Homo sapiens: one gene and its partner. The protein of the gene in region 1 purifies or fractionates together with the protein of each later gene. This does not show direct contact. Each region holds a gene or a part of one and is shown on either strand. Other genes may lie near its edges. The genes, in order: KCNAB1 and ANKRD44.

What was found.
Region 2: the proteins of KCNAB1 (region 1) and ANKRD44 purify together in Homo sapiens (co-immunoprecipitation; one large-scale study listed by IntAct). This does not show direct contact.

What each region holds. Positions count from the first base shown.
Region 1 is NC_000003.12:156,119,087-156,123,469, reverse strand, and holds the start of KCNAB1 (voltage-gated potassium channel subunit beta-1), read right to left. Parts: upstream 2,893-4,383; 5' UTR 2,859-2,892; coding exon 2,584-2,858; intron 1-2,583. UniProt on the Homo sapiens protein: Regulatory subunit of the voltage-gated potassium (Kv) Shaker channels composed of pore-forming and potassium-conducting alpha subunits and of regulatory beta subunits.
Region 2 is NC_000002.12:197,118,603-197,122,422, forward strand, and holds part of ANKRD44 (serine/threonine-protein phosphatase 6 regulatory ankyrin repeat subunit B), read right to left. Parts: intron 2,943-3,820; coding exon 2,730-2,942; intron 1-2,729. UniProt on the Homo sapiens protein: Putative regulatory subunit of protein phosphatase 6 (PP6) that may be involved in the recognition of phosphoprotein substrates.

The DNA of each region.
Region 1 (4,383 bases):
ATCATTTAATAATACCCTTTGTTTCAAATATAAATTACCATAGAATATGGACATAAAGCAATCCTCAAATTCCTCAGGAACTAGAATTAACCTGATGTAAAATATTTTAATTCCATCTTCCAAGAAAGGAAACAAGTTTGAGTTCGCTAGCAATTCCTTACTGATGAACATTAACCAAAGACCCACAGAATTATTTCCAATAGCAAATGTGTAATGTCTTCAAGGACTCTTCAATACATTTCATATTCTGTCTTGTAAGTAATGCTTCACAGGTGGATAAATTTGTTAATATTTTATAAGTTAATCATATTTATCTTCTACATACAAGTTTCTAATGGAGATATCACTCATGGGCCATGTTATTGGAAGAAAGAACAATTGGAAGTCCAAGAAAATTTTCTGGGACTTCTCAACGGCTGACATTTACAAATGAAAGAAAAATTTGGGTGACTTGGGGGATCGTACATTCTATCGCTAACATTAAATTTGGAAGAGATTGCACCATCAGACATTGTCACTGTCCAGGAATCTCAAGGACTCGACAGAGGAATGTAGTTCCAACATTTGAGAGGTAAAAAAGTTGCTGGCGATGAGAAAAACTGCCTTAGTTTCCTGAGCTATTGCAAACATTGAACTCTGTAATAAATGTATTTAATTTATAAATAGAGTTAGTTCCAACTACACATACTCGTTTCTTCCTGGAAATAATCATGCTGCAATAATAAAGGAGGATGGGAAATTTTTAATTTTTGATCATGTAAGGTGGACATATCTTCACTCTTTTTCAACCCTTTTACTAAACAAGGGAAACACCATGCTATTGTCAATCAGTGATTAATAACACTACCCCACAGATTATCACAGGAGACATTAATTCTGGATCATGTCTAATCTAGTCTTTTCTGATTACAGAACAAAATATTATTGTTTAAGTGAAGCAGAAAAGAGCAGATATTTGCTTTTCCCCAAAAGTTTCTTGCTAAACCTGGTTACCTTAACTAATATGCCACTCTGACTTGTTCAATGTTGTTCCAATGTCAGATAATGAAGAATTCTGTGGTCTTGTATTAGACTCTTTAAAGGAAATTTCTGGTATATCGCAAGTCAAGGAAAATGTTACGGAAGAAAACCATTTTCAATGCTTTCCTTTGCCACTTAACTCTTTTTCCTAGAGGATCTTTAATAATAGCTTTAAGATTTGTAGATGTGAGATATGTAATAGTTTGAAATATGAGATATGTAACACTAACAAGCTCATTCAAACTTTCTTTAAACGAGACTACTTTTCCTTTGGTCTTCCTCCCATGTACCCCAAATGTGGGCCCAACAGCATATACAAGAGCTTCAGACAAACCACTCTGGCCATGAATACCAAATGTATTTCATAGAACATTTCCAGAAGCTTTATTTTGTGCTAATTTTTAAATGTTGATTTTTGAATAATAGTTTAGGTTTTAAAATATCTATTTATTGCTGCCTTGAAAAAGAGAAAATGAAAGTTAGTTGAGGAGTTTTAAAGTGTACGGTACAAGTTTTTAGTCTATATGCACAAGTTAATTCAATTACTAAATAAGTTTTTCTGTAGTGTCTTTTGGAAATAGAAATATAGACAGAAAGGCAGCTCAGAGTGCACTGGATGCTTTGATACAGGCTGCATTGCAGAATTTCAGTGCTACCATACAGTCTCTACAAAAGGAGTTTTCCATACTTTGACTACGTAATTGGAACCATTTTTCATCTCAAAGGAATTTTTATTACCATTTAATAACATAGCTATTCTAGGTATTATTTTCACAGTATTTTTTCTTCCAAAATTATCTTTAATTCCTAAGAGATTTTTTGCACAAATTATAGAAAATAAGCATCCTTAAATTTCAGGACTCCAGACACTTTTTACTCAGTACGTTTTGCCTTGGAACACTGGGATTTGTGAAATTATCCTTCCTCTGCTTTATTTGAAGCTGAGGCTGAGTAAAGAACAGAAAGAAAACCCATAGAGATTTGCCTTACATTTATCTCTTTTTTAAAAGTTACCTTTTTCTCCTGATGTTATCTGTCTTAGACACGGGGCTCAGATCCCTATATTGGTGGTCAATATGTCCCATTCTGCATCCCTATGGCCAGCCTGACCCCTCATTCAACAAGTTCACACTACTCAACTCCACTTTTCAACCAGGCAAAACAAATGTTCTTCCCTCATCCCCAAGTTCTCAGAGCAAAGGAAATGCTGAAAGATTGCAAACTCTTTTTTGTAGTTATTTTGGAAGGGAGCACTTTCCTACCATCTCTTAACTCCTCTGATTTTTACTTAAGAAAAATCATAATGCTCTTTTGTCCTGTCAGCTCCTAAGCATCTACTGCCTCCTTGTAAGAGGTCTTTTCTGAATAACAATGCAGGGAACATTATTTGCCATTTGCACCAAGATCCTGCTCTTTGTGGTTACACATTCTGAAGTGCCAATCATCTCTAAGGCAATTAGAGCCGTTAAGACTTCCAGCTGCAGAGGAAAAGAAATCAAAGCATTCTCCAGAGCACCTTCGAACGGCGTCTCCCAAAGCCCGCGCAGAGCAGGGGCAGCTTACCTGTGCGGCATGCCTGTGGTGCAGACGGTGGTGTGCTCGCTGGACAGGTCGCAGAGCTTTAGGTACCAGTTCATCTCCACTTCGCGCAGCAGAGCCAGTTGACGCGCCCTGAGCTGGCTTTCCCCTGAGGGACTAAGGCTGCTGTCTTTAGCGTTTTCTGAGGCTTTCTTGGGAGATTTGTCTTTCCCTGCTACAGAAAACCCAGACTGTCTCCTTAACTTGGTGTTCTCCTCTGAGATCTGACTCCCCGCTGCCCCTGTCCGGGCTGCCAGCATCGTGGAGATCTTTCAGAGAAGACTGGAAGTCACTGTCATCAAAGTAATCTGAATTGATTTTTCTGCTTCTGCCTCCCTCCCTCGTCCCTGCCCACTCCACCTCTCTTAACCTTATCCTGCCACAAAGCTGTAATTGAGCCCAGTCTGTGGCTTGGGATGAAAATGTATCTCTAACCTTTCCTAGTGAAGAGGTAAGCTGGCCAATACCTGTGGTATCTTCGAACACGGAAATTTTAAAAACAACTCCCAACAACTTTGTAATACTGAAGTTTGGCAGTGGCTGTTTCTTCCGCAAAGTTAGGACTTTTGCTTTATTTAATAGTGACAACTCTGAACTTTTGGTCATATAGGTTTGGTAAATTACATTCGATAATCATGTTAGAGTTATAAAAGATTTCTGGAGGCTCATTAGCCATTCCTGATTAGAGTCCCTTTGGAGTTTTAAAAGTTTTAATGTGAATTTCCTCAAATAAGTTCAACAGTATCAATGCAAGGGAAAGATTATTTCTCTTGTGCAAACCTGAACATTTTAAATTTATTTTATATTTCTTTGAATGTCAGTGAACCACATAACGTATGTCAGGCACTCTTTCATTCCTAATGTGAGAATGGTAATCCCTCATAACCGATTCAGTAACTGCCCCTCCCAGCACTTCTGACAAATAGAAGCCATGAGAATCATCTGATAATTGGGAAGGTGAAGGCCAAAACTGGTGTGAAAAAACAGAAGAGTGGGAGGGAATGGTGGGAGCCTGTATGTGCATGGATGTGTATGTGTGTGCCCAGTGTACATGAAAACTAGTTTGGGAGAAACAAAGAAAGCCAAGCTGATGGCCCTATGGTTAAGATGCATGGGGTTGACCCACACACACCCATGGATCTCACTCTGTTTTAGTTTAGGAGATAATGATGTCAGTGTCCACCTAGGGGTCTATCACAGAGTTGTTTAGTGACCCGTTAAGCACCAGGCACCCTCCCCCTCAATCAACTTAAGTCTCTTCTGGATCAACTATCTCAGTGCCTGCTGCATGTAAAGAACTTGGGAAGGTGCATGTATTTTTCTTTCCATGACAAAACCGTAAGTTAAAAATTGTAGAGTTATAGCAAGTCCTTAGAGTCCCTGAGAAGAGCAGGAGAGGAAGGAGGAAAGAAGCATGCCTTCTTAAAGAGATAGGAAAGTGCAGTTAGCTCTTTTGGAAAGTCTGTCAATAGGCTGTCATAAGGCCTCCTCTGCCACCACGGTATGGAGGAAGAATTTCCTTCACTGCTATTCTCATCCCTTTACTATCTGAACTAATGTGGTCACCTCGGTCACATGGCTTGGTAACAAGTCATCTACTGCTGTCTTGGATTATCTTGCTTCCTTTAATGTACGCCTTGCCCCCTTTCACTTGCCCTTAGTCCACTGTCACTCTCAAAGACCTGCCAAAGGTCTTTGAGGATCCCTATGGCTGTTAATTAACCAATATCAATATTAACCAATTAACAGCCATGTGGGCTCTTGCACATTTGGGTGAAACCTGTT
Region 2 (3,820 bases), on another chromosome or scaffold:
AAGAGAGAAAGAAAGAGAGAGAGAGAGAGAGAGAGAGAAAGAAAGAAAGAAAGAAAGAAAGAAAGAAAGAAAGAAAAACCTAAATCATAATTTTGTCTCTCTGCAGTGATAATTGTTGCTAGCATATTGGTACATACTCCAGAGAATTTTCTCTGTTTTTGCATCATCTACACACATAACCATAACATTTTAGCATTAAAAAAGAGATCATATTTCTTTATTGCATTTCAATGTTTTCATTGATAATACTAGGTGTTATTAGCCATTTTGATATTTGCCGTTCTTTAACACAAATGTACGTTTTTGTATTAGTTTGTATTTTTCTAATTACCAGTAATACTAGTTTTTCACAGGCTTAATGTATTTTTTATTCTCTCTTGTGATCTGACTTTTGCTCCATGTTTTCTAGTAATGATCACTTTTTCTTATTGATTTGTATGAGCTCTTTTTATATCAAGCATATTAACTATTTGCTTATCATGTATATTGAAGAAAATTTTCCCTAAGTTGCTCTTATTTTAATTTCATGTTAGAGGTTTTATTGTTGTTGTTTTGTTTTATAAATGTTTAAGACTTTTTTGTAGTCATATATATGATTATTTTCCTTTTTTTTTCCTGCCTTTGGTGTTCTGTGACCGGATTACTGTTTTTAATGCTCAGGTCTGATCATATGACCCCTAGAATGATTCGTGGCCTGCAGAGCCTGGAGAGGCCCAAGCTCCTTGGGCTCAAAATCATCCAGTAGATGAGTCCTCTTCCTTGGTCAAATCACATTTCAGCTCATTTCTGGCTCCTTTCTGTCATACAATTAAAAATAAAAAAGCTTTTTACAGACAGGATCTCACTAGGTTGCTCAGGCTGATCTTAAACTCCTGGGCTCAAGGAATCCTACACCTCAGGCTCCCAAGGAGCTGGGATTACAGGCCGAGCCACCACACTTGGCATGTTCATAAAATTATACTCTATTTGATACAATCAATTGCTATTCTGAAAATTTGTCACATCTTTCACCACTATTAGAAATTGTGAAAAAATATAAGATTTTAATAGTGAATAGAGAAGGTTATTAAAATAGACTGATGTGATATTCTTGAAATTACACCTTAGAAATCATTTTTCAAAACCAGAGACAGAATACACTGGGACCTTGCTTCAGGATCCCTGTGTGCTGGGAAGAAGGGAAGCCTGGGTTGAATAAAAGGTCTCCTAGCACAGCTAAGGATATTCTGCTACAATCTAAATGCATTCAAGTGATGTCGCCCAAATTATGAATGCTGCGTGATAAGCTCCCCTTGGTTAGCTGTCACATGGCAAGCTGACAAGTTACCTAGAGGTTTTCCTATCCAGAATTCCCACCCCTCTTTGCTCATGCTGTTCTATCTGGAACACTCTCTCTCAAATTATCTCTATCCCTCCTCAACTCAACTACATTAATCTTCCAAGTCTCCCCTCAAAATCGATCTCCATTTTTTATTCCCAAGCAAAAAACAAGTCAACAATTGCTTCTTAGAGTTTGCAATGCTTTATGACTCTTCTCATCATATCTTCTCTTGCTCATGATTACCTGAGTGCATGCTACCTCCCTACTACACTGTAAGTTCCTTAAAGGCAGAGACTGAATCTCATCTTAGAGCACTCTTTCAGTACCAAACAGAGGGCACTGGGTAGTCCTTAGTAAATTTGCTGAATAAAGGAATGATTGTGATGACCAGCTCAGTGCTACATCACTGAAGCCACTATCTGGGGTTTGCTTTAAGAAGGTATTGGCTGGGCACAGTGGCTCACACCTGTAATCCCAGCACTTTGGGAGGCTGAGGCAGGTGGATCACTTGAGGCCAAGAGTTTGAGACCAGCCTGGCCAACATGGTGAAACACCATCTCTACTAATAATACAAAAAATTAGCTGGGCATGGTGGTGCATGTCTGTAATCCCAGCTACTGGGGAGGCTGAGGCAGGAGAATCGCTTGAACCTGGGAGGCAGAGGTTGCAGTAAGCTGAGATCACGCCATTGCATTCCAGCCTGGGTGACAAGAGCAAAACTCCATCTCAAAAAAAAAAAGAAAGAAAAGAAAGAAGGTATCTGAGAAGCTCTAAACCCACACTGGAGTTGGAAACAGGCCTACAATCATTATTAGGCCTTCCTTTGAATTCTTAGCAACACTGCCCTATCAGCTCAACATTCACCTCAGTATTAGCTTCTGGGCAAGTCAATATCCTAGAGATCCAGTATTTGTCCTGACACATTCACTAAGCTAACAAGAACACACGGCTGGAGCCTTGGTACCTTTCAGCTGATACCACCACTCCTGAAGAAAAATAACACAACTTTTTTTTTTTTGTTTTTGAGACGGAGTCTTGCTCTGTTGCCCAGGTTAGAGTGCAGTTGCACAATCTCAGCTCACTGCAACCTCTGTCTCCCGGGTTTAAGCAATTCTCTGCCTCAGCCTCCCGAGTAGCTGAGATTGCAGGCACCCGCCACCACGCCTGGCTAATTTTTGCATTTTTAGTAGAGATGGTGTTTCACCATCTTCGTCAGGCTGGTCTTGAACTCCTAACCTCATGATCTACCTGCCTCAGCCTCCAGACAACTTTTCTTATAGCCTCCAAATCCAGGACAAGGCTGTGAGGTTCCAACTCACTAAAACATGGCATAATTTGCAGCAGTTGATTTTGCTCAAACAGAAGCTCAATGCAAAGGCATTCAACACAGAGACTAAGAGTGTCATACCTGAATGTTAACATCTGCCCCGTTGTTTACTAACAATTCAAGACACAAAGCACCATGAGTGGAGGCAGCAGCAAAATGCAAAGGGGTGAACCCATTATTGTTTGGCTGGTTCACGTTAGCACCGTAGTCAATCAACTCGTTAACCACAGCATCCTGTCCATTGTAGCAGGCGATGTGAAGCGCTGTATTTCCATAGACATTGATTTCATCAATCTGCAAAAGAGTCCAACACAGGGTGATTAAAGTCATTAGAGCCAGTTTACTCCATTTTCCACAAAAAGCATAACGGCTGTGGCTAGAGAAAGGAAATAGCCATCCGCCAATATAATTGTTCAGAGCTTACTCTTGCCCCAGTGTGGTCATCTTGGGAATGCTTGTCACCCCATGGTAAAGATCAGCAAAAAGTCAATGTGGCAAAAAATGAACTGGAGACAGAGAAGTTTCATCCTGGGGAGAGGTATTTTTCAGCTAACAAAGGAATAAAAGGTGAAGGGCAAAGCTGCTTTCAAAACACCAAAAGAGAAGTAAATCAGAGGAGAATGAAAAGAGTCCCACACTCTAGGATTGGGGCACAGAAAACCTCAAGAAATGGTGGGGGATGGCAGAGGAAGTGGCTGCGGAGATGGCAGGGGAGGTGGCTGTGGAGTCTAAACATGGAAGGCGGGTCAGAATCCACTCTCTGTTTTGCTCTGGAGTCCGACACCTCACCAGGTTGCATTTTAGTAGCAGAGCAGTGGTGCCGTCAGGAGGTGTGTTTCGTCCACGGCTCCCTATTGCTTTCTGAGACCTGCCCTGGATGCCTGGTTTCCTCATTATGGTTTTCCATAATGATGCAACTTGGTTTTCCTTTCTTGGGGGACAGGATGTTCCAGCCTCACCACTGCTCCTGTTCTACCAGCAGAAAGAGAAGGCAGCAGTCTGCCTTTTCCAGCTCAAGAGTAGACATTGCTGCTGTTTGTCTCTGCCATTTATTCATTCATTTCTGCTGTAAGTCATGACTTAGAAGGCTACATTTGGAAGGTGGGATGCAGAACCTTGGCCAGTCTTTAAGAACAACTGGTTAATATATATTACATAGAATCTTTATGTCT